7 linked regions of the Homo sapiens genome follow. The protein of the gene in region 1 purifies or fractionates together with the protein of each later gene. This does not show direct contact. Each region holds a gene or a part of one and is shown in the gene's direction. Other genes may lie near its edges.

Region 1 (4,221 bases):
GTGCTGCTTTCATTCTGTGCCCCTGACAGCCGGCCCTGCCCTGAGGCCTGCGCTTTCTCCAACATGGAAATCAGGCCTTCCATCCTTCAAGACCCAGGGTTCTGGCCCCAGTCTCCTCCCTGAGGCCCAGGACTCTGGGTCTGCCAACGCCTTGACCAGGAGTCCAGGCTCCCCGGCCCTCCTCCTCCCTCAGACCCAGGAGTCCAGGCCCAGCCCCTCCTCCCTCAGATCCAGGAGTCCAGGCCCCCTGCCCCCTCCTCCCTCAGACCCAGGAGTCCAGGCCCAGGCCTTCCTCCCTCAGACCCAGGAGCCCAGGCCCCCAGCCCCTCCTCCCTCAGACCCAGGAGCCCAGGCCCCCAGCCCCTCCTCCCTCAGACCCAGGAGCCCAGGCCCCCAGCCCCTCCTCCCTCAGACCCAGGAGTCCAGGCCCCCAGCCCCTCCTCCTTCAGACCCAGGAGTTCAGGCCCCAGTCCCTCCTCCCTCAGACCCAGAAGTCCAGGCCCCCAGCCCCTCCTCCCTCAGACTCAGGAGCCCAGGCCCCCAGCCCCTCCTCCCTCAGACCCAGGAGTCCAGGCCCCAGCCCCTCCTCCCTCAGACCCAGGAGTCCAGACCCCCAGCCCCTCCTCCCTCAGACCCAGGAGCCCAGGCCCCCAACCCCTCCTCCCTCAGACCCAGGAGTCCAGGCCCCCAGCCCCTCCTCCCTCAGACCCAGGAGTCCAGGCCCCCAGCCCCTCCTCCTTCAGACCCAGGAGTTCAGGCCCCAGTCCCTCCTCCCTCAGACCCAGAAGTCCAGGCCCCAGTCCCTCCTCCCTCAGACTCAGGAGCCCAGGCCCAGCCCCTCCTCCCTCAGACCCAGGAGTCCAGACCCCAGCCCCTCCTCCCTCAGACCCAGGAGTTCAGGCCCCCAGCCCCTCCTCCCTCAGACTCAGGAGCCCAGGACCTAGGAGACCAGGTTCCTCTCCTCTCAGATCCAAGATTCTGGGTACCCAGGCCTTCTTCCTCTACCACTCAGAAGTGGGGTACCGAGGCTTCTTCTCCCTTAGGGACCCAAGACTCCTGGCCTCAGGCCCTCCTCCCTGAGACCCGGGGCCCTGCCTCCCGCCCCTCCTCCCTGGTAACCCCAGTCAGACTTGCTGCCCCGCCCGTCTCCTGCTGCCCGGGAGACTGCGGAGCTGGGACTCTCGGCGCCGCTCTTGCCCCTTAGTGAAATGAAAGTCCCATCAGGCTCGGCCCCTTCCTCCCCGGGCGGCCTCCCTCCCCCCTTCCTCGTCCCCTTAAAACACCCGGGATCCCTATGGCAACAGGCGCCGGGCGACAGGTGCGGGTGTTATTTACGGGTCAAGCCCGAAATAGCCCCGAGGGTGGAGGGTGGAGGGTGGGGGGTGGGCGGGTGGGGACGAGGCCGGGCGCGGGCGGAGGCCAGGCCGGTGGCGGTGGCGGGCACAGCCGGACGCTTCGGAGGCAGCGCGGAGCTGGGGTCGGCGCGGGGCCGAGGCAGGAGAGCGAGAGGGGCCCCTGCTCGGGAGTCGGGGGTGGGAGCCCCGAGGGGGGGCCCTGGCCTGGGGCTGAGCCTGGCGCGAACCCGACCGGGAAGGCCCTGGGAGCCCGGGGGAGGGAGACGGACTGATCCCGAAGGGGCGCAGCGTCTCTTGCGGGTCGCGGTTGGCCTTTGAACCCTGGGGGGACTCAGTCCTGGTTTTCCGAGCCGCAGTGCGGACCACAGCCCCATAGTGTGAGCCCCAGGAGGGCCCCCGGTCCCATCTGCCCCAGCCCTCGGGGAGGCCCCGTAGCCTCCCGCCTCTGGACTCCACTCTGTCTTCCGGCCACCGGCCCCTTTTCCAGGCTCAGTAGAGACCTCGGATCTTTTCTGAATGGCAGGGGAGACCCCTATCCCCTTTTCCTGAATTCCAGCGAGGCCCAGTCCTCTTCTGAGCCCCAGCCAGGGCTCTGTTCTTCTCCTTCTGTGGATGCCGGGGTCCTACTGCCTCTCTTGAGACCCGGATTGAATTCCGACCTCCCCTTGGGAGCTTCCCGGGACCCCAGGTCTTCCTTTTCCGAATCCCAGAGGGTCCCCAAGTCCTCTGTTCTCAAACTCTGAGCCCAAGGGAACCCCGGCCACATCTCCTCCAAACACACACAGGACCTCAGGTCCCTTCCTGGGTACCCCAAACTCTTAGCCCTAGTGGGGTGCTCAGATCTCTCAGGAAAACCAGTTTCCCTTTTGTTAACCCCCCAGCGGGGACCCCAAAGCAGCCCCTTGGAGCTGCAGGGAGCTTCAGCGGGCACCAGTTCTCATTCCTCTGGAGCTCTTGGGGGGACTCCCTCCTGGGAAGCCGAATTCTATCTCTAAACCTCAGGGTGGGGGCCTTGTTTTTCCTCTGGGCCCCGTCTTCTTTGCCAAGTTCTTGAGGGCAACCTAGACCCTCCTCTGAACCCCAGAGGCTTCCCCAGCCCTGGGGATCATTTTTCTCTTCTGAACCCCAGAAGCAATCTCGACTTTCGCATTTGAGATTCCAGACAGGACTCGGCTCTCCCTCTTTCATACCCAGGGGAAACTGAGTCCCTCACCCCCTTCAAGACCCCAGGCCGCTCCTCGCTCCCGCCCCTCGAGGCCCTTCGCCGGCTCTGCCTCCTCCCCCTTCCCGACCCCACCGGCCATAAGATGATGTGGTCCAACTTCTTCCTGCAAGAGGAGAACCGGCGGCGGGGGGCCGCGGGCCGGCGGCGGGCGCACGGGCAGGGCAGGTCGGGGCTGACGCCCGAGCGCGAGGGGAAGGTGAAGCTGGCGCTGCTGCTGGCCGCCGTGGGCGCCACGCTGGCGGTGCTGTCCGTGGGCACCGAGTTCTGGGTGGAGCTCAACACCTACAAGGCCAACGGCAGCGCCGTGTGCGAAGCGGCCCACCTGGGGCTGTGGAAGGCGTGCACCAAGCGGCTGTGGCAGGCGGACGTGCCCGTGGACAGGGACACCTGCGGCCCCGCGGAGCTGCCCGGAGGTGAGCAGCCGCCGCCCCGAGCGCAGGGCTTGCGTCCCACGGACAGGGAGGGAGAGGGGCCCGTGTCCGAGGAGAAAACCCGCCCCAGGGACAAAAGCCTGAGCCCGGAGGAGACAGCTTGCCTCGCAGTAAGCGCCAGTGCCCACTTCGTCCTCTGCTCTCAGAAACTGCTGAGAGATAGAGGGATCCCCCAGATATGGCCCAGGTCCCTCACGGGCCTACCGCCAGAGAACCTGTGCCTTAGAGCTTGCTTTCCTGCTACAGACTGTACCCCAAGACCAGAATGTGCCTACAGGGAGTCTGTGCCCCCAGGCCATCCTGTACCCCCAGACCAGGCTGTGACCTGAGACCCCCTCAGACGAGTCTGTACCCCTATTCTGCACCTCTAAAGAGAGCTTGTGCCCCCGCCTACAGCCTGTGCCCCAAGACCATCCTGTACCCCGACTATCCTGTACCCCCAGATGAGCCTGTGTCCCCAGCTACAGTTTCCACCCCCAGACTAACATGCACCCCTAGACCAGTCTATACCCCCAGACCAGCCTGCATCCTTACACCAGCCTGTGCCCTCAGATCAGCCTGCACCTCCACACCAGGCTATGGTCCCAGATGATTCTATGACCCCCAAAGTCCCTGCCCCCACACAGCCAATGTTCCCAGGCATCGCTGTGTCCCCCCAGACCAGCCTACAGCTCTAGAGAGAGCCTGTGTCACTAGAAAAATCTTGCCTGTGTCCCCAGACCCAGCCTGTGATTCCAGACACAGCTGGTGTCCTCAGATAGCCTGTGCCCACCCCAGACAGCCTGCACCCTCTGGAAGTGCCTGTGCCCTGGAGACAGCCCGTGCCCACTCTGCATGTGCCCACAGACAGCCTGTGCCCATGGAGAGACAGCCTGGGTTCCTGGTGTCAGCTTCCTCTTCCCAGCCTGGAGACAGCTTGCGCTCCCATCCTGTGAGCCCTGGGGAGACAGACGCCCACCCCAAAGCAGGATCTATGCCTGTTCCCCACCTACTGCTTCCACCAAACCAAGCTCTCACCAGACGCCTCCCAACACCCGAGGGCAGACCTTGTTCCTTCCCTGCAATGTTCTTCACTTCCTGTCCTCTCGCCTCCAAATGCCCAGACTGGACATTTCAGCGTTTCTCATTTTCTCCGAGAGACATTCCCATACTCCCTCCTTTCCCAAATCATGGCTGTTTTATCCCTGGGCATGGCAGAGAGCTGTTCCAT
Region 2 (2,708 bases), on another chromosome or scaffold:
TTCTCCTGCACTTCCTCCTCATGTAGTCTGGAGTACTTTCTAAAGGGCTTAGTTGGATTTAAAAAAAAAAAAAAAAGATTGTCTACTTTTCAAAGAAGTAACCATTTGCCAGGGGAAAACATTCTGCTTTTAGGTAGTTTCAAAATTCAGGGGAGGGAGCCTGAAATTTTTGCCATGATTGGTTTGTTAGAAAGAGCAGGCATCAGACTACTTCTGATAAAATTGTTTGGAAGGTCACGACCTCGCAAAAACTTTTCAAGAGCAACAAGGAAGAATTCTGCTGTGAAGAACACAGTGTACGGATCCTCCGCATATTATCTCAACAGAGGACAGTAGCTCAGGAGGCAGCTTCAAACGGTGACCTGTGGCCTGGGCCATCTCTTCGTCATGTGCTTCACTTTTCCCTGTTTCCCTGTGAACTGGCTTCCATGGTTCTGTAGGGTAGTGAGTCGGGGTTGTGGCTGCAGCAGAGCAGGAGATGCTTGCCCGAGTGGGAGCAACCCACCCCCGTGTCCCCAATGCCTCACTCCTGGCTTCTAGTGCAGCCCTTTGTAGACTCACCTCGCAAGAAGGAAGATCTGCCTGGAGACCTGATCCCAGTCCAGCTTTTTGACCATAGGTCATCTTTGTCCCCTTGCTCCTTTGCATCATGTCATAAAATTTGAGGATATCAGCTGATTATTTTTTCTTCCAAGAATGAAAATCAAGCAGAATTGATTCCTACACGAAAAAAAAGCACACGAATGCCAAACCTTTCCTTTGGTGGACTGGACACTAACCAGATGAGAGTAAATTTCTTATCCGTGGACGTATGTAAGCTACTGCTGCTGTGTGCTCTCCACAGCCATATTTATTGTATTAAACAATCAGCACTAAACCTTCAAAAATTGCCCAGTGTTCCTAGTTAAATGTTCAGAGGGGAGAAATAGATATATTTTAAATAATGTTTTGCTAATGAAAAGAGTAAATATTTTTGTTTAAATCAGCAAAAACTTTCCATTATTTTATATTTCCGTCTACTATACCTAAAACAAAAGATTGCCGTTATACCTGGGTTCCACTGATGCAGTCAGCCAGCACCTCCTCACATGCACACATGATTAGACATAGGTGCACTCGGTACCAAGAGTCCATTTTATGGTCCAGCATATACTCCATTGATTCATCATCACTGCATGTGTTCAGCCAGTGTATCTCACACTATCCATACAAATCTAAAATTGATACTGGAAATGTTATTATAGGAGGCAGTGATCGCATTTAAAATCAGGCCACCTACAAGTTTAATTTTCAACATCTCATGTTTTTATTTGTCCCATTACAGCCTCAAATGTTGGTCATAAAAAAAATTTAGGCTACCAAAGTTTAAAGAATAAAATGAAAATTTTATAAGAACTTACATTAAAAACTCAGTAGTTTGCATGAGTAAGAACTCCTTGAGATACACAGATCCCCCCACATTTGTATTTAAAATAATTGGTGAGGCATTGAAATCCAGAATTATAAGAAAGCATTACTGAATATGTGTGTTATAAAATCAATATTATTATAAACAAAATAGGAAGCTAGAAATATTTGGGATCACAGTAATAGCTTTTCTCAAATATACTTTTAGAATTGAATGTACATTATCCTATATGTAAAAAAGCAAATTATTAATTTTAATGGAGCTCTCGATTGACCTTTTTAGCATACTTTTATAGCATGTATATTAAAATAGAATATATTTTAGCAAAAGATTGCCATAAAACCCTGACTTGGCTCATTTTGATATTTGCACTGTGAAGAGGGCTTAAATTCCAATGTAGCAATGTGGTGGCAGACAAATGAAAAACTAGGAAGTTCTTTCACAGTAATGCCTAGTTGTTCCAAATTTGCTATATTTGGAGGTGCTCTACTGGTACTTCCTGCTTGACTCTCTGACCTGTGGGATGCACATTCTTCCTCAGCGCTTTTTCCTTGTTGTGGTGACGTACATTCACTATCTGAGAGTGAAAGACCACACACACCCCTCTTTTTAAAATTATTGTATCTCTTCCTTTTCACTTTGGTTTGAACAAAGATAGTGTCACCTTGTTCCGTGAAAAAGAAAAAGCATAAACAGTGTATATTTAGGGTATATGGGTGATAGCTTATGATGTGTGTCAATCAGTTCTCTGAATCTTTTACTGAAACTGAGACAGGAAAATAAAACTGAAACAAATCATATTTTGACTTTGTTGTGCCATTTTCTCATTGGAGAAGAAATATTCAACCAGTGTTTACAAAATAATGATGGGTATATGTAAGTATTATATCGTGTCTATTCCATCACCAGCACCTACAGTGAAATCTTCAGGGCTGGGGATAAAATAAGTTCTGGTGATTACCAAACATCTGTATTTGTTGAGAGGCAATGTCCTCTTAATACAAAGAGTACTGAACTTTTATGGTATTAGCACAGTTTGTAATTACCTGTGTATTTTTGTGAATCTCTGAATGATGTGTGCCCCTTACTAGAGCTTTAAGCTATGCAGAGGCCAGATGAAGTCTGTTTGGGTTGGCCGCTGCATACCCAGTGTCTGGCATGATGCCTGCTCTCTGTAGGCCCTCCAGCTTCTGAAATGCACAAGCTTGGAGCTTGGTCTAAAGACCCAGCTGTACACATTGCCTCTTGTCTCTAGGGCATCTCCTGTCCCCTTCCCCAGACCTTTTATTTTGCAGAGTTC
Region 3 (3,052 bases), on another chromosome or scaffold:
GCTGGGTCTGAGAGGAACCTGAGGCTGCAGCTAGTGAGGCTGTGCTAGCAGACCTGAGATCTGACCAGTCACAGGGGAAGAGGACCCTCTAATGGGATCCCTCAGTTTAGCATCATCCTCTGTTCTGAATAACACTTGTAATATTTATCATGTATTTACCCAGCTCCCATTCTCTGCCTATGTTGGGAAAGCCATGTATTGTCTCCATTTTGCCCCATAACAGTCTTGTGAGATAGGGATCATTATCCTTACTTCACATGTGAGGAAACAGGTTCAGACACAGGGACTTGCCCAACATTACAGAGCTGATAAAGAGCGAAGGCAGGATTTGAACCTTTCAAAGACTGTCTGGGGCTGGAGTGCCGCCCTGGCTCTCACCATTTCCCTTGACCAGCGGTGCTCAGCTTCCACGAGTTCTGCATCCGTGGCTGGTGCATCGTGGGAAAGAAGCAAACGTGTCCCTACTGCAAAGAGAAGGTAGACCTCAAGAGGATGTTCAGCAATCCGTATCCTTTATTGGGGTCGTTGTTGGGAGTGGGCTGTGGGAAGAAAGTACTGGCCAGTGTGACCTGCATTTGGGTCCTCCTGGGGCCCTCACTTCTGCCCCCAACCAGAACATGTCAAACCATGGTGGGAAGCTGAGCTGCTAGTCCTGCCCCCATGATACAACCCCAGTTTCCCTATTCTAGGATTATTGCCTATTCTCAGCCTCCTTGCAGCCATTGTCACGGATAGATAGACTTGTGTCAGCCTCAGGCTGTGTTATCTTACACTGGCAGTTCCTTCTTAGAGAAGGTGTTACAGGAGGCCCTCCCTGCATGTTAGTCATGGGGAACTAGGATTTATCTCTATACCTCTCTCAGGGCTGCCCTGCCTCCAGTACCAGTCCCCTCTATCTGCCTCCCACCTTCTCTGCATTCAGCTCTTTACCCCAACAGACAGGCTGTGAGGAGGAAGAGGAGGGGGAGGGCAAAGTTGGGAGGGCTGCCTGAGTAGGAAGTGAGGCTGGGCCCTTCCAGAAAGCAGCCTCCATTCCTCTAGGCTGTGGAGCAGCTGGAAAGTGGGGCAGACCCAGGGAGCCCCACCACCCATGCTAGATCACTCCTGGCAGCTCTTGCACAGAGTCTCTTTTCTTTAACACACTGACAGCTGGGAGAGGCCTCACGTCATGTATGGGCAACTGCTGGACTGGCTTCGATACTTGGTAGCCTGGCAGCCTGTCATCATTGGTGTAGTCCAAGGCATCAACTACATCCTGGGCCTGGAATAGTGATGAAGAGCATCAGTGGAAAACCCACCCCACACGCCATGGACCTCAGGGCACTCTCCTCCCTGCCCACAAAGACCTCCTGGGTGGGAAAGACTCAAAGGGGTGCTTGGGCCACTCAGGACCCCTCTGGCTGTGTCGGACTGGGGAGGGATATGATGGAGAGCCAGCCAGTGGGGCTGTCAGCAGTGGGGGGCTTTTTAAAAGAAAACTATTTTGATGAATATATTTAAAAAACCTTTTTTTATTGTGGAGCATAGGAATTGCCCCCCTCCAGGCTTCACCCTCCCTGCCTAAGCAGGGTGGGGGCAGAGCCATGACATTTTTGGTTTAAAGGAGCCTTCTCATCTCTGGCCGAGAACACTGCTGGGCTCCCAGGTAGCTGAAGGCCTCAGCCCACCCACTCCCTTCTTCCCTGTGTGGGGCTCAAGCCTGGTGCACTTAGTATAGAAGAGCTAACGTACTCAGGCTTGTGCCACGGGTGAGCACTGAGGCCCCAGGTGTCCTCCCTCCCCCACTGTCTGGGACACAGGACAGGTGTTGCGTCTGACTCTGTCTCCCCCTGTCCAAGAGCTATAGGCTGGTTGAGGCAAGTGGAACCTTATCAGTGACTTGGCCAACAAGGGAAGCCTTGGGGCCTCAGAATTCATTGAAGATTTGTTTTGGGACAACTGGAAGAATCAGCACCATGGATACTCGCCCGTGGGCAGGGCTGTGGTCAGCCAAGAATAGAGGTCATATAGTTGGGCCATGGGGCAATTGTTGGCAGCCATGACTGACGGCCCCTTGTGCAAGCTCATTCTTCAGTGGATCCTTCAGTGGAGTGGTGACACGTGCCAGCGGTCACTCTGCCACATCACTTCCTTCTTGAAAGCCTAAGAGTGCGTATGCGTGTGTGTGTGTGTGTGTGTGTGTACGTGAGGCAGAAGAATATGACAGATGTCAGCTTCTCCCTGTGTCAGATGATATGTCCTTGAAGCTGGCAGGGGATTCCCAGTCCAGGGAATATCCCTACATGATTTTTGTCATTCATGGGTCCTCCCTGGGCCTGACAACGGGAGTGGTGGGTGGGTGAGAACAGGTTCTGAGAGGGGGCTTCTAGGAAGGCCCCAGCCCTAGTCCTAGGCGACTTGAATAAAGTGGGAGGTCAAACATGGGCCTTCGGCATTGGGTTTCTAGGGAATATGGCTCAGTAGGGCCTGCCCCTTCAAGGGCAGCAAGAACGAAGCAGGATGTTGTCACTCCCGTCTGAATAAAGCTCCATGAGCTGGGTTGGAAAGCTGAACATTTATCTTGCTTTCTTCTTCCCACCTCTTTCCCTGGGGTCCCCAGGGGTGTCTTGCCTTTGTTAACCCCCATCGGAGACCTGAGGGTCTGGGGGTGGTTGGGCCTGCCTTTCTGCTGTTCCCAGCTGTTCCCCTGCTGACATCCCTAGGAGTGGTGGAATGCCAGGCTCCTGTCCTGTGGCCTGGGGGCCTGGGGCATCATTGGGCCTGCCTTCAGACTGAGGTTGCTCTATGTTCTCACTGCCTGAGGACAGTGTCCCGCCACCACCTGCCTTCCTGAGGACCACACTCAGGCTCGGCTTCTCTTCCCCAGCTGTGGCTTCCCATGGTACCCTGCTGCTTATGCCACCTGTGGGGCTGTTCCCCTCCTCAGAGAGGGGAATGGGGCTGGTCAGAGGACCTAGGGATCACCCTTCCTTTTACTTTTTCCCCCCACCCCCCTGTCAGGCTCAGGTGAGAAGCCGAGGCCAGGCTGTCCAAAGCTCTTTTCATGTGTAAC
Region 4 (3,500 bases), on another chromosome or scaffold:
AAATGCAGGTGTTACTTCCATTTGAAGCACTATTAAAAAAACTGGATAAAGATCAGCAGCAGCTACAGATTGTTGCAAGTTCTTGGGATATCCTTCTAGCTTAGGAATATGGCTCCATGGCAGAATTTATGATCAGAGACTCATCATGTCTTCAAAAATTTAAACAGAATTATGTATAATTGCTAGCATGCATCTCCATAGAAGCTATGTTATAGTGAGTGATTTAATTAGCATTACAATTTTCAGGAATTAATTACCTAATGTTTTCCCCTCCCAACCCCTATAACCTGAAAAAAAAAAAACCCAACCTATAAATGGATTGTGTATTTTAAAGGTAATCATTAGAAATTTTATTTCATAATACATTTGCTTTTAATGATTGTTGCACTTTTAGTCTATTAGTTGAACATTAAGTTTTCTTTTTACCCAATGACTAAAAATACACTGAAAGTTGAAAACTTAAATGACATTTTCAGAACAATCTATTTTGTTGCTTTTGTGTGTTTTTTTAGTTTGGCAGTCAGCTTTGAATTTTAAAATTTCTTTGAAATTTTATGGGTTATTGATTATTAGAGTCAGTAATTTAAAATCTGAATGTAAATTAACTTGGCCACATGCAAATTAATTGTATAATTCATTTAAGTAGTCATTTATGATTAGTTGGCTTTAACTTTTTATTCAACAGCCAGCATCCTTGTTTCAAGCCATGGAGTTACATTCCTGATGGAATCATGCCAATTTTCTGGAGGGTAGTGTATTGGACGTCACAATTTTTAACATGGTAAGTTACAGTAAATGATAAAATTTTTAAAATTTTGGCTAAAGGAATAAAATGTTTTTCAATCAATATAGTTTGGAATTTATTTATGTGTCATATGCATTCTGAATCTTTCTACCCATTATTTTTATCTTTCTGCTGTGCTCCAAACTCATAGTTATCCACTGTCTACTAAGCATCTCTTAGATCTGCAAACAACTGCACTCTAAAACTGGAGGCACTGAACATTGCAAGAGAAAAATTACATAGCAGAGTAGTGCTTTTGTAAAGTCATGTCTATTAAATTCAACTGGGCTCTCAACATTGCCAGACTTTCCTTCTTTGTTTTTTTTAGTTTGCTTTCTTTCCATTTTCTACAAGAAATATTTCCATTCACTTCAAACTTCCGTCCTCTTTATGGCTTTCTCTCTTGTGCTCCCTAACAACAACAACAAAATCATCTTTACTCTTAGCCTCTTAGCAGATGACTACTTTCCATCCAGCAGTTAAAACAGGAGTCATCAGACGGCAGCTCTTTCAGCTTCTCACCAACAAATCTACATACCTACCCATCTTTTTTTCTTTCCCCTCCAAAGATGGAAGAGTCATGCTTGTTAAAGCCAATACTTCTGTCACAGGATCCTTAGGGGTGTTGTTTTGCCAGCTGGAAACCTCTATGGCCAGTAGCACCTTTGCCTGAATTTTACTCAGGCCCGCTGGGCTTATTCCGCTTACTCAGCCTGGCAGGTTGCACTTAGCTCATGCTCCTGGCTCTGATCTCATGACTCCCAAGGGCGAGCCAGGCATGGAGTGGTGAGGGGTGTGTGAGTGAGTGAGCATGGGATCCAGCCACTGAGCACAGCCAGACACGCTGGCTGCTGTGGCAGGGTGGGCAGCTCCAGGCATCGGCACAGGTGTCGGCTCTGTGAAAGCCTGTGGCTGGGTCAGATGCACTGCAAGCAGCTTCTGCTGTGGGCACCTGCATCTGGATGAGAGGAATGTGGTGGTACCCAGAAGCTTGGAGATGCCAGAAACCTCAGAGCTCCAAAGAGGGTGTCACAGCCCTAGCTTGGGGAGCCCCTAGATCTGGGCTCCTGGAAGGGCCACAGCTCTTCTCTTCTCGTCACCTGCAACATGGCAAGTGGCAGGGCCATGTTTCAGCCCTGTTTGTGTTTCAGCTCCTTCAGTTCTGCCATTCAGCAGGTCCTGAGTTCTTGTCCTACATCCAGGAAGAATGAGGTATGCAGACAACTGGAGGGTGAGCAAGGTGAAGAGGTGCTTTATTGAGTGATAGTACAACTCTCAGGAGACCCAAAGTGGATAGCTCCTTTCTGCAGGCAGGTTGTCCTGACAAGTATAGCTCTCAGTGGAGAGGAGCCCCAGAGTGGGTAGCTCCTATCTGCAGGCAGGTTATCCCAATCGTCTGTGCAGCCCCCAGTAGAGAGGAGACCTGAAGTAGATAGCTCCTATCTGTAGTCAGGTTGTCCTGTCATCTACCTAAGTGGGGCTGAGTCTGGGGTTTTTATGGGCTTCAGAGAGGAGAAAGTGTGCACTGATTGGGCCATAGGCAGACCTGGATAAAGCACCCTAAGTTCTCACTCTGGTCCACAGAGCTGATGGCCTGGCCTCCATGCTTCAGGCTGTCCCTGGCTTGAAGGTGGGGCTTCACCGGGGACCTGCCCACTTCTGCCCAGGAGCCTATCTGCCTCCTGCCACCATCAATCATGTCATTTATGGCACCCAGGCTGTTCATGCCAACCAGTGCCTGCAGGCCCATGCTGAGCTGCCCTCAGCCCCACTGTCAGCCTCCCTTCTGTGCTTGTTGATGTCCAAAGTCCAGAGTGGGCTGAGGCAGCCGGGGGCTGGTGTCAGTGCTGCCCTGAGCATGTGTGCACACCCAGCTAGGTTACAACAGTGCCTGGATTCAGTCACAACTTTTCTCCAAAATCAGAGCAGGTGTCAGGAGCAGGTACTTCCAAGCCTGTAGGGGTATGGGGGCTTTCTGGGTCCCCGAAAGTGCAGGGATGCCTGGGTCCACAGCCACAGCTGGGCAGCTGCAGCTATGCCCAGAGCAGGGCTCCTGCCCCGCCAACTCGGAAGGGGGTGGGGCTCCCACCTCTTCCCAGCTCCTGCTAGCTCCATGGAGTGCACAGTCCCCGCCAGTCCCCCCACACTGCGGCCAGCAACTTTGCTGGGGGCCACTCCAGACAAGCTGCTGCTGCCATCACTTCTTCCTAAAATATGGATCCATCCCCTTCAGCTCTTGTTACATACTTGTAGCTTTCAATTTCAACGAAGCATGCACATTTCTCTCATCTTTTGAAAAGAAAACAAACAAAAATGAAAGTCTCTCAATTCAGATTCCTTTCCAGCTTCTGCCTTGTTGATCTGATCACAACTAAATTTTTTTAGAAACTTTTTAAAATTGAAGCATAAGTTCGTACCGAAAAATGCATAGATTGTGTTTAGTTTGACTTTTTTCAAAGTGAATACACCCATACACCAGCACTCAGATGATGTTATAGAACATTAGCAATGCCCCCAGAAGCCTCGCTCACGCTTCCCTGTGTAGTCATCCCGCACTCCCCAGAAGTAACCATGATTCTGACTTCCGTCACCATAGATTAGTTTTTGCCTGTTTATGAACTTTATAAGCATAGAATTATACATTGTGAACTTTTTTGCATCTCTCTTTGCTCACATATTTGGGAAATTCATCTATGCTGTGCTGTATGTATCAGTA
Region 5 (3,358 bases), on another chromosome or scaffold:
AGACACCCAGGTCACAGACCCTCCACCCCCAGGCCTCCCAGAGCCCCTCACCCTCTGCCAGCCACGGTAGCCCCCCAGTGGCCTCTTTTTCTTCCATCTTCCCATGTGTCCCCAGGTTCCTGTTGACAGCTGTCGCCTTGCTCTCCAGCTACTCCATCCACCTGCTACTCAAGTCCTCAGGGGTCGTGGGTGAGCCTCACACCAGCCTGGAATGGGCGGGAGCTGGTGGGTAAACTGGGACAAGCTCCTGACTTCTTGACCCTGCTCCTGCAGGCATCCGTGCCTATGAGCAGCTGGGCTACCGTGCCTTTGGGACCCCAGGAAAGCTGGCAGCAGCCCTGGCCATCACGCTCCAGAACATCGGAGGTAAGAGCAGTGGGCAGGGGCAGGCAGTAGGGAGGTGGACAGCCCTGAAAGCTGGCTGGTTGGGCTGACCTCAGCGCCTGCCTGCCCGCCCCTCTCCCCACAGCCATGTCCAGCTACCTGTACATCATCAAGTCTGAGCTGCCACTTGTCATACAGACCTTCCTGAACCTGGAGGAGAAAACCTCGTGAGCCCTGGCGTGGGGAGGGGAGGGGAGGGGTGCGGTGCAGTGAGGAGGGGTGGGGTGGGGTGGGGCTGGGTGAGGGTGGGGGGGCCCAGGCTGGGCTGGTGGGAGAGACAAGACAAAGCAGACAAGAAGCTGGTGGAGTGGGGAGAGTTGCCCGCAGAGCCAGCATTCAGTTCACACTCACTTGGGAAGCACCTTGGAGACCCCCCTCCAGAAGGGGCTTGTGGGGCTAGGGGCAGGGTGCAGCTGAGGAAGCTGGGCCTCTCCTCACCCCGGACCCAGCCTGTGAGCGTGGGAGGCTCAGGCTTAGCTCTAAGCGCCTGCTATTCCTGACCATGGGGTTGCCCCCCCCAACCAAGATATTAAGCCCAGGTGTCCCAGTTGCCTATCACTTTAGCCAGCATTGACTGGGCATCAAACGTGTTTTGTGGGACAGAGGGGACACAGCCAGGCCCTGCTCTTGACAGCCCAGCCCGAGCAAGCAGAGGGGCTGGGAGGCTGAGAGTAGCTCCGGCAAGAGGGAGAGCCAGGATTCTGCCGCTGGGGCCCTGGGCCTTTCCCAAGGAGTTGGCCTCAGGGCTTGCCTTTGAGGATGGTCCTGGCCCTTATCCCCTTGTTTCTCTGTGCCCCGTATCCATTCCTGGTGGGTAGAGGAGGGGGCCGGATGAGGCAAGGCCCAGATGCCAGAAGGAACCGCAAGGAGCACAGGTTATTGCAAGTGCCAGAAACCCCCGTGGAAAATACCACCTCCCTCTAGAACCAGGTCCCTCTTCCTCCTCCCACCCACCTCCATCCAAAGGCTGGGCCCAGACCTGTGTATCCTGAGAAAAGCAACAGCAGTGCCTACAATAGAGAGGGTCCTGAGCATGAGCTGTGTGCCAGGCTGGAACCTTAGTTCTCATGTCACCCTGAAGGACAGTACTGAAGGCACGCCCTTTGTTTTGTTTTGTTTTGTTTTGTTTTGTTTGTGAGACGGAGTCTCGCTCAGTCGCCCAGGCTGGAGTACAGTGGCACAATCTTGGCTCACTGCAACCTCTGCCTCCCGGGTTCTTGTGATTCTCCTGCCTCAGTCTCCTGAGTAGCTGAGATTATAGGCGTGTGCCACCATGCCCGGCTAATTTTTTTGTATTTTTAGTAGAGATGGGGTTTCACCATGTTGGTCAGGCTGGTCTCGAACTCCTGACCTGATGATCCACCCACCTCAGCCTCCCAAAGTGCTGGGATTACAGGCGTGAACCACCGCGCCCAGCTGGGCATGCCCATTTTGCAGATGGGGAAAGTGAGACTCAGAGCTGTGGACAAACATTCTTCAGATGTCACTCAGTGGCACCATTGGTAACTCCAGCAGAGGGAGGCAGGGGCCCCATCCCAGGCTGAATGGATTCTGACCCTGGCTCCCGACTCATGTCCCTGCAGGGACTGGTACATGAACGGGAACTACCTGGTAATCCTTGTCTCTGTCACCATCATTCTGCCCCTGGCACTGATGCGGCAGCTTGGTGAGTGTGGAAGGGTCAGAGCCTTGGAGGGGATGTTGGAGGCATACACCATGGGAGGGGCCCCAGGTCTCAGAGTGCTCCCTCCACTTTGCAGGCTACCTGGGCTACTCCAGCGGCTTCTCTCTTAGCTGCATGGTGTTCTTCCTAATTGCAGTGAGTCACCCTCCATGTTGGCTGAGAAAGCGGGCAGCGGGTCTCCTGGGGGAGTTCCCTGTCATCAGGAGGGGGCAGGTGTCTCTGGGAAGCCTGGGCCAGAAGGCAGCTCCACCAGTCCTGATCTAGATGTGGCTTCATGGTGACTTCCCAGGCAGTCCAGCCTGGGAGTCTCTGACACCCTCATCCCTCCCCACTCCAGGTCATCTACAAAAAGTTCCACGTGCCCTGCCCACTGCCCCCCAACTTCAACAACACCACAGGCAACTTCAGCCACGTGGAGATCGTGAAGGAGAAGGTGCAGCTGCAGGTCGAGCCTGAGGCTTCAGCCTTCTGCACTCCCAGCTACTTCACGCTCAACTCACAGGTTCTGACAGGTCAGGGCAAGGCGGGGGCCCAATGAGAGTGGCAGACTGCCTTGACACAGCCCCGTGTTTCCCCAGACAGCATACACCATCCCCATCATGGCCTTCGCCTTCGTCTGCCACCCCGAGGTGCTGCCCATCTATACTGAGCTCAAGGAGTAGGTGTCTGTGGCTGGGAGTGGGGGTGGGGATGCCCTGAGCTGGTTTGGGGAGAATGGATGTGGTCCTGAATGTGGAGAGGGGAGTGACAGGAGCCAAGTCACTTTATCTGAGATGTCCTTGGCAGCCATGAGAGGTGATTATGAGCAAGAAGGAGACTCCCTCAGATGCTGAATGGTGAAAGTATGGTGCCAGAGAGAGCTTGGGGCACATGGGGGTCTCCCAATGTTACCCAGCTTGTCACCAACACCCACCCCCCCACTTCCCCACAGCCCCTCCAAGAAGAAGATGCAGCACATCTCCAACCTGTCCATCGCTGTCATGTACATCATGTACTTCCTGGCTGCCCTCTTCGGCTACCTCACCTTCTACAGTACGGTGGCACCGGTGGGCAGAGGCCTAGGCTAGGCTGGGGGGAAGGGGCTGGTTGTGGCCATGGTGCCCTCCATACCGAGGCGTGTGGTGCCTGGCTGTGCCTTGCCGCTGTGGAGGTGAGTCTGCATGCCAATCCCCACAGTGTTGGGGTCCCCTAGGCAGCTCAGATCCCACCTCCTTCCTGGGGCCACCTACTGACCACCCTCCCTGCCTGCCACAGACGGGGTGGAGTCGGAGCTGCTGCACACCTACAGCA
Region 6 (3,500 bases), on another chromosome or scaffold:
TAGTGTGTACCCCACTCCCTCAACCCATCTCCAGATGAAGCTGGAGAGATCTATCGAAATCCATATCTGATCTACTATGTACTGCTTCTTTGCCTTTGTGCACGTAACACTTTCTTCCTGAAACGTCTTTCTCATTTTCCTGGTGAATTTGTCCTTCAAGACCAGGCTCATAAACAGGGCCAGGACTAGGGCAAAACAAGTAAGGCAGTCCCCTTTGATGCAGAATGTAAGAAGGTGCCACAAAACTCAGTAATCAATATAAACAACATTTGTATGTAGTATTTTTAAACAATCAAAATTAACGCAAAAAATTCATGATGAACCAAATACCAAAATTTCACATAACTCATCTCATTCACCTTACCCTAATCCTGGCCCTGTTGAGTCCTAGCTTTAGTTAAATTTGATATTTGATTCATTATGGCTTTTTGTGGATTAATTTTGGTTAAAAAATATCATATTGAGACATCATTTATCTTGATTACTGAGTTTTTCTTGCACTCCCTTACATTTCATGCCTAAGAAAAGTACTTCACTTGCCTCACGCTAGCCCCTCTGTTGTCAGGAATCACCTCCTTAAAGAAGTGTTCTACTTACCACAGTGTATTAGTAGTTTTCATTTGTCTTTGTGATAGGTTGTATCTTGATTTAATGGGTTTAGGTTTTTATAATTATAATATTTGAAAACTCTTAGTAGTAACAGTTAACTTTCTGCATAAAAGCATGTTGCCATTACATGACTTACTAAAGACATTTGTTGAAACCTAGAATGGTAGCATGGTGCTTCATAAAAATCAGGCCTACATTTGGGCCGCTAGTATTTAGTGACTGACTACTAGGATTGTATGTGTGCAGAGTCTGTGGGAAATTGTACCAAACCTTTTACATGGCCATTTAATGCTATCTTTCCTTCTTGCAGCTCTCAAAGGCCACTTGGCAGAATATAATATTATGCTTTTTATAAATAGAACTCAACTTAAGGTCTCATAAACATAAAATTATATTTTAAAACACATTTTTCATTTTTATAATTACGTAAGCAATGCATGTTTAATGTAGAAAAATATGGAAGGCAGAAAAAACACAAAAGAGAAAAATGCTTACTTGTAGCCTCACCACTCAGACATAAACCACTGTAAGTATTTAGTTTTATATGTTCACCTCGTCTCTTTGCTGTGCTTATGGATATTTTTAAGTTTACATGTTTTTTATAAAAATGATATAGTACTTCGCAATTTTTTTTCTGGTTAGCAATTAATTTTTGATATCTTTCAGTGTCAGCAAATACCATTGTACAACAAAATTTTATGGCTCCATAGTATTCTATTAAATGAATGTATAATTTCTGTAACCAACCTGTGTAGTTGTTTTTGGATATTAAGTTGTTTCTAATTTTTCACTAAATGAGTCATTTTTTAGTCCTGCTGAGTACTTGATCTTTCTTTTCTCCAAATTTTCTTCTAGCTCCAGAAATAATAGACTTAGTGTGAGGAATGTGAGGCCGATGAAAACCATTTTTATAAAATACACTTTGACACAAATTCTTTTTCTATACAGTTTAACTAATTAACTTTATCATAATAGCAGATATTTTTCTGGGATTCCTGAATACTTCTTTTTAAATTTTAGATGAATTTAAAATGAATTTAAATGAACTTAAAATGAATTTAGCATTTTGGTTCTCTCTGACAAAATAAGATGTTCACCTCTTTTCATTTTAGATTCGAATGCAGGCTCAAGGAAGCTTGTTCCAAGGGAGCATGATTGGAAGCTTTATCGATATATACCAACAAGAAGGCACCAGGGGTCTGTGGAGGGTAAGTACTCTTTTCCTGCTATTATCCTACACTCTCAGTTCCTACAATTTGCAGAGAATTTTTTTTTATATAAAGACATAAAATCGTGAATTATAATCCAAAAACTAAGGTAAGAAACTCCTCATCTCCCTTGAAAGGCCCAAAACTTATCATTGGCCTTTTATTTCTGCATAATGTTTGGGGATTATATAGGTGGGGAAAGTTATTACATTATTTGAGATGGCTGTTTCGATCATATTCACAGTGAATGTAGTTGTTCAGTGTATTTTTTTGCAAGTTCTGTACTAACACGATGATGTATGTCTTTGTAGTGCTTATGTTCAAAAGCTGTTACCGGCTGTGTGCTGTGGCTCATGCCTGTAATCCCAGCACTTTGGGAGGCCAACGCGGGTGGATCACTTGAGGTCAGAAGTTCAAGACCAGCCTGGCCAACCTGGTGAAACCCCATCTCAACTAGAAATACAAAAATTAGCCAGGCATGGTGGTGCATGGCTGTAGTCACAGCTACTCAGGAGGCTGAGGCAGGAGAATTGTTTGAACCCTGGAGGTGGAGGTTGCAGTGAGCCAAGATCATGCCACTGCACTCCAGCCTAGGTGACAGGGCGAGACTCTGTCTCAAAAAAAAAAAAAAAAAAAAAAAGAATAAGAAAAAAAAGCTGTTACCTTAAACAATTTTTTAACCTAAAAAGTCTAACATGTACTGTAAAATATTGAGAAAATATAGAAAAGTAAAAAGAAAAAAAATCCAGTAGTCCCACTGCCTAGAGATAATTTCTGTTAAACTTTTTGTCATATTATCTTTCAGTCTTCTATCTATACTTTGCTTTTCGTCATTGTTGCTCTAACTTTTTAATCCCTAATTATTGTAATATTAATAATATTATTAGTAGAATATACAGAGAGAGTGGAATGGGAAATCTATTAATAGACTTTTAAATAAAAATGAGAGCTTTGGTATTTTTCTTTATAATTTTTCATAACAAAAATTTCAAGCATAAAGAAAAATTGAAAGAATAGAACTATGAAATACATACCTATGAGCTGGATTTGATGGCTGTTAAAGTTTGATCGTATTTGCTTTATCTGTTTACGTGTATACAGACATACACTCTTTTTAGCTAAGCTAAATGAAAGTAGGTTGCAGACATCATGGCACTCAATTAAATTCTTCATTGTGCATCTCCTAAGAATAAGGATAGTCTTCTACATAATAATAATACCATTATCATATCTAAGAAAATGAACAAGTCCCTAATACCTAATATCTAGCCCATATTAGAATTTCCTGTTAATGAGACCAGGCTAATTTATAATTTATTTTCTTCCTTCCTCCTTTTTTTTTTTTCTTTTTTTTTTTGACAGGGTCTCACTTTGTTGCCTAGGCTGGTCTTGATCTTCTGGCTTCAAGTGATCCTCTGGCCTTGGCCTTACAGATGTGAGCCACCATGCCTGGCCAGGCTAGTTTTCTTATAAAGTGTTTCCTCATTGTGTTTGTTTCTCTATCTTTATAGAGAAAATATCTTTATATTTACAGTTTATTTCCTATAAACTGTAAATAGGGTCCATTGGCTTGATTAGATTCATGTTAAACATTTTTGGTAAGGGTGCTTCATAGGTGATGCTGTGTATTTCATACTGCATCACAGCAGGAGGCACATAATATTAGTTTGTCCCATGATTAGT
Region 7 (3,500 bases), on another chromosome or scaffold:
GGAGAATCAGGCAGGGAGGTTGCAGTGAGCCGAGATGGCAGCAGTACCGTCCAGCTTCGGCTCGGCATCGGAGGGAGACCGTGGAAAGAGAGGGAGAGGGAGACCGTGGGGAGAGGGAGAGGGAGAGCTGTTTTGTTTTGTTTTTTGAGACGGAGTCTCGCTCTGTCGCCCAGGCTGAAGGGCAGTGGTGCCATCTCGGCTCACTGCAAGCTCCGCCTCCCGGGTTCACACCATTCTTCTGCCTCAGCCTCCCGAGTACCACCCGCCACCACGCCCAGCTAATTTTTTGTGTTTTTTTTAGTAGAGACGGGGTTTCACTGTGTTAGGCAGGATGGTCTCGATCTCCTGACCTCGTGATCCACCCACCTCGGCCTCCCAAAGTGCTGGGATTATAGGCGTGAGCCACCACGCCCGGCCCACAGAGGAGCTTTTTTCCCCTGGTTTCTCTAGTTCCTTATTTCCCTGGTTTTCTGCCCCACCTGCTGAGGCCTTTGGTATATCCTGGATCAGCAGAGGGAGCTTTATGAACTGAGACCCTGCAAGCCAAAGGGAATTTGAGGCCTTGGCCTAATCCTGGAGGCAGCCTCCTAACTGGGCCTTTTCCTTTTGTGGCTACCAAGTGCATGCCTGGCCTAACCAGCTCTATCACTGGGCCACAGCCAGAGCCAATTCTGGGTCCTGGGGTCGAGCCCCAGCGAGGAATACCTATTTGTTACCGTGTTTCTCAAGGATGGCCCTTGAGTCACCTTGATCCTAGGGTATCGGGTGTCATGATCAACAGCTCCACAGTGGCATGGGAAGACAGTGCTAGGGCTGGGCTTTAGGTTAGTTTCCTCCAACCAAACCTCTTGCTCTTGGAAGCTATCCAAAGCTCAGGCAACAGAAAAAGCTCTAGGCCTCTCATGGCAGGTTTACAGTCTGCATCAGTCTACCCTGGTGGCCCCCTCATAGCAGACTGCTGGTTCGAGGGGTTCAAACAGGCTTTCTCCTAGAGCATGACCTGAAATGTTGTGAAAGTGCAGATTTTGTAGGTAAGATGGCTTCAGATTCGCCCTGAACCAAGGGAGTGTGGGTGGGAAACATTGAGAAGTATGGGGCTAGGGCTGTGTGTAAGTTAGGAGACTGTGCTCAATAGGATGGCGGCTAAGGAACTTGAGAAAAGGGCAAATTTGAATAAGTAAGTGTGCAACTGACTGAGATAGAGAAGAGGTCAAAGGGCCTTCTGGGGGACTTTAATCTGGGCTTTGTGGGCTCTTCCTTCCAGGCCCTTTGCATCTGCCATGGGCAGGAGGTCTAAGGTCAGGGAATGTATGTCTTTTTCTTTCCAGTGCAAGTGCGCCCAGTACTGGCCAGACCAAGGCTGCTGGACCTATGGGAATATTCGGGTGTCTGTAGAGGATGTGACTGTCCTGGTGGACTACACAGTACGGAAGTTCTGCATCCAGCAGGTAGTGTCTCCTCTGTCCTTTCTCAGTTCTTATGTTGGATCTGCTGACCAGTAAGAGGGAACAGGCTGGATCATCCCGCTGTGGTCAGGAGTTGCTGAGTATGCAGTATGTGAATTCTGAAACCAGATATCCGGGCTCAGGGGAACTTGTCTGTCAAAGCTAAAGGAGCAGTATTTTCATGACTGGTGAAAAATTACCTGTTGAGATGAAGTCTGATCATTTAGATATGACCAAGCACTGTGGAAAGGGAGCATGGGGAGGCAGTGCAGTCTCCTAGGTGCTTGACTCACCTTTCTCCTCCTTTCCTACTCCAAAGACTCCTGACATCAAGGATGTGATGGGCCTGCCCCTGGCCCTCCAGGCAACCCTGGAGACCTGAGCAAAGGTCACCTTCAGCCAAGGGGCAGTGTGGTACTGCGAAAAGAGGACTTAGCTGGGAGCACTGCATTTTAGTTCTGACCCTGCCACTGACTAGTTGTGAGACCTTGTGTCTGTGGTTAACTAACTCCCCTGGGTACACTTACTTTTCCATTGTCACTGACAACCACAGCTGTCACCTTCCCTCCCCTGGTACTGCCCACCCTTGGGTATCAGGGCCAACACACAGGATCTCCTCACTTCACAGGTGGGCGACATGACCAACAGAAAGCCACAGCGCCTCATCACTCAGTTCCACTTTACCAGCTGGCCAGACTTTGGGGTGCCTTTTACCCCGATCGGCATGCTCAAGTTCCTCAAGAAGGTGAAGGCCTGTAACCCTCAGTATGCAGGGGCCATCGTGGTCCACTGCAGGTCAGTGTGGCCTGACCCTTGTACCCCCACCCCCACATTTCGCCCCCATGGCCAGAGCAGGGGAACAGCACAAGGGCCCTGGCTGAGGAGGCTGGCACAGAGTAGATGACCTACTGGGGCACCAGCGCAACAGCCAGAGACTCCAAGTTCTAGTGCAGGGTGGAGAATATGACTTGAGGAAGGAGGGTAGGGCAGTCCTCCAAGATTAGGAGTTGGGAGACCCTGCTATGAAGCCAAAAGACTGGGTCAAGTGCTGGCCATGTATTTTTGCAGCCTTCGGACCCTTCTAGCTGGAGGTCAGGATTCAGGACATACTGGAGTTGTTGGCTCCTGGAGAGCCCCAGCTCTACCCCATTCAGAATTAGGATTTAGACCCTGAAGGAAGAGCCCCTGCCTGTGTTGCCCCTCCCTATCTGCTCCCACAAGGCAGGCTGGCCATCCCTATAACCCCCTGCTCTCTGGCTACAGTGCAGGTGTAGGGCGTACAGGTACCTTTGTCGTCATTGATGCCATGCTGGACATGATGCATACAGAACGGAAGGTGGACGTGTATGGCTTTGTGAGCCGGATCCGGGCACAGCGCTGCCAGATGGTGCAAACCGATGTGAGTGATCTGTGGGTCAGGTGAGGGTGGGGGGTTCCAGGACTAAAACATCTGCCCACATTGAGGATTCACTCAGTCTCACAGGTTATTGTAAATGATTACTATAGAGTGTGATTGTGGGGGAAAGAAAGATAGATCACACTGTTACCGTGTCTATGTAGAAAAAGGAAGACACGAGAAACTCCATTTTGTTCTGTACTAAGAAAAATTCTTCTGCCTTGAGATGCTGTTAATCTGTAACCCTAGCCCCAACCCTGTGCTCGCAGAAACATGTGCTGTATTGACTCAAGGTTTAATGGATTTAGGGCTGTGCAGGATGTGCTTTGTTAAAAATGTGTTTGCAGGCAGTATGCTTGGTAAAAGTCATCGCCGTTCTCCAGTCTCAAGCACCCAGGGACACAATGCACTGCGGAAGGCCGCAGGGACCTCTGCCCAAGAAAGCCTGGGTGTTGTCCAAAGTTTCTCCCCACTGAGATAGCCTGAGATATGCCCTCGTGGGAAGGGAAGGGTCTGTGCTGAGGAGGATTAGTGAAAGAGGAAGGCTTCTTTGGAGTTAAGATAAGAGGAAGGCATCTGTCTCCTGCTCGTCCCTGGGAATGGAATGTCTTGGTGTAAAACCCGATCGTACATTCTATTTACTGAGATAGGAGAAAACC

What was found.
Region 2: the proteins of CACNG6 (region 1) and CDS1 purify together in Homo sapiens (affinity purification with mass spectrometry; one large-scale study listed by BioGRID and IntAct). This does not show direct contact.
Region 3: the proteins of CACNG6 (region 1) and RNF121 purify together in Homo sapiens (affinity purification with mass spectrometry; one large-scale study listed by BioGRID and IntAct). This does not show direct contact.
Region 4: the proteins of CACNG6 (region 1) and LMBRD2 purify together in Homo sapiens (affinity purification with mass spectrometry; one large-scale study listed by BioGRID and IntAct). This does not show direct contact.
Region 5: the proteins of CACNG6 (region 1) and SLC38A3 purify together in Homo sapiens (affinity purification with mass spectrometry; one large-scale study listed by BioGRID and IntAct). This does not show direct contact.
Region 6: the proteins of CACNG6 (region 1) and SLC25A14 purify together in Homo sapiens (affinity purification with mass spectrometry; one large-scale study listed by BioGRID and IntAct). This does not show direct contact.
Region 7: the proteins of CACNG6 (region 1) and PTPRA purify together in Homo sapiens (affinity purification with mass spectrometry; one large-scale study listed by BioGRID and IntAct). This does not show direct contact.

Annotation. Positions count from the first base shown.
Region 1 is NC_000019.10:53,990,216-53,994,436, forward strand, and holds the start of CACNG6 (voltage-dependent calcium channel gamma-6 subunit), read left to right. Parts: upstream 1-1,421; 5' UTR 1,422-2,662; coding exon 2,663-2,993; intron 2,994-4,221. UniProt on the Homo sapiens protein: Regulates the activity of L-type calcium channels that contain CACNA1C as pore-forming subunit.
Region 2 is NC_000004.12:84,649,127-84,651,834, forward strand, and holds the end of CDS1 (phosphatidate cytidylyltransferase 1), read left to right. Parts: 3' UTR 1-2,208; downstream 2,209-2,708. UniProt on the Homo sapiens protein: Catalyzes the conversion of phosphatidic acid (PA) to CDP-diacylglycerol (CDP-DAG), an essential intermediate in the synthesis of phosphatidylglycerol, cardiolipin and phosphatidylinositol.
Region 3 is NC_000011.10:71,995,046-71,998,097, forward strand, and holds the end of RNF121 (E3 ubiquitin ligase RNF121), read left to right. Parts: intron 1-394; coding exon of another isoform or gene 395-404; coding exon 405-506; intron 507-1,149; coding exon 1,150-1,270; 3' UTR 1,271-2,552; downstream 2,553-3,052. UniProt on the Homo sapiens protein: E3 ubiquitin ligase which accepts ubiquitin and transfers it to substrates thereby promoting their degradation by the endoplasmic reticulum-associated degradation (ERAD) pathway which is a pathway involved in ubiquitin-dependent degradation of misfolded endoplasmic reticulum proteins.
Region 4 is NC_000005.10:36,138,388-36,141,887, reverse strand, and holds part of LMBRD2 (G-protein coupled receptor-associated protein LMBRD2), read left to right. Parts: intron 1-685; coding exon 686-781; intron 782-3,500. UniProt on the Homo sapiens protein: Recruited to ligand-activated beta-2 adrenergic receptor/ADRB2, it negatively regulates the adrenergic receptor signaling pathway. May also regulate other G-protein coupled receptors including type-1 angiotensin II receptor/AGTR1.
Region 5 is NC_000003.12:50,215,271-50,218,628, forward strand, and holds part of SLC38A3 (sodium-coupled neutral amino acid transporter 3), read left to right. Parts: intron 1-115; coding exon 116-189; intron 190-273; coding exon 274-366; intron 367-469; coding exon 470-551; intron 552-1,967; coding exon 1,968-2,050; intron 2,051-2,144; coding exon 2,145-2,203; intron 2,204-2,405; coding exon 2,406-2,570; intron 2,571-2,646; coding exon 2,647-2,726; intron 2,727-2,999; coding exon 3,000-3,100; exon of another isoform or gene 3,101-3,218; intron 3,219-3,322; coding exon 3,323-3,358. UniProt on the Homo sapiens protein: Symporter that cotransports specific neutral amino acids and sodium ions, coupled to an H(+) antiporter activity.
Region 6 is NC_000023.11:130,356,919-130,360,418, forward strand, and holds part of SLC25A14 (brain mitochondrial carrier protein 1 isoform 1 precursor), read left to right. Parts: intron 1-1,721; coding exon 1,722-1,817; intron 1,818-2,128; coding exon of another isoform or gene 2,129-2,257; exon of another isoform or gene 2,258-2,774; intron 2,775-3,500. UniProt on the Homo sapiens protein: Transports inorganic anions (sulfate, sulfite, thiosulfate and phosphate) and, to a lesser extent, a variety of dicarboxylates (e.g. malonate, malate and citramalate) and, even more so, aspartate and glutamate and tricarboxylates.
Region 7 is NC_000020.11:3,019,981-3,023,480, forward strand, and holds part of PTPRA (receptor-type tyrosine-protein phosphatase alpha isoform 1 precursor), read left to right. Parts: intron 1-1,328; coding exon 1,329-1,448; intron 1,449-2,073; coding exon 2,074-2,240; intron 2,241-2,708; coding exon 2,709-2,844; intron 2,845-3,500. UniProt on the Homo sapiens protein: Tyrosine protein phosphatase which is involved in integrin-mediated focal adhesion formation.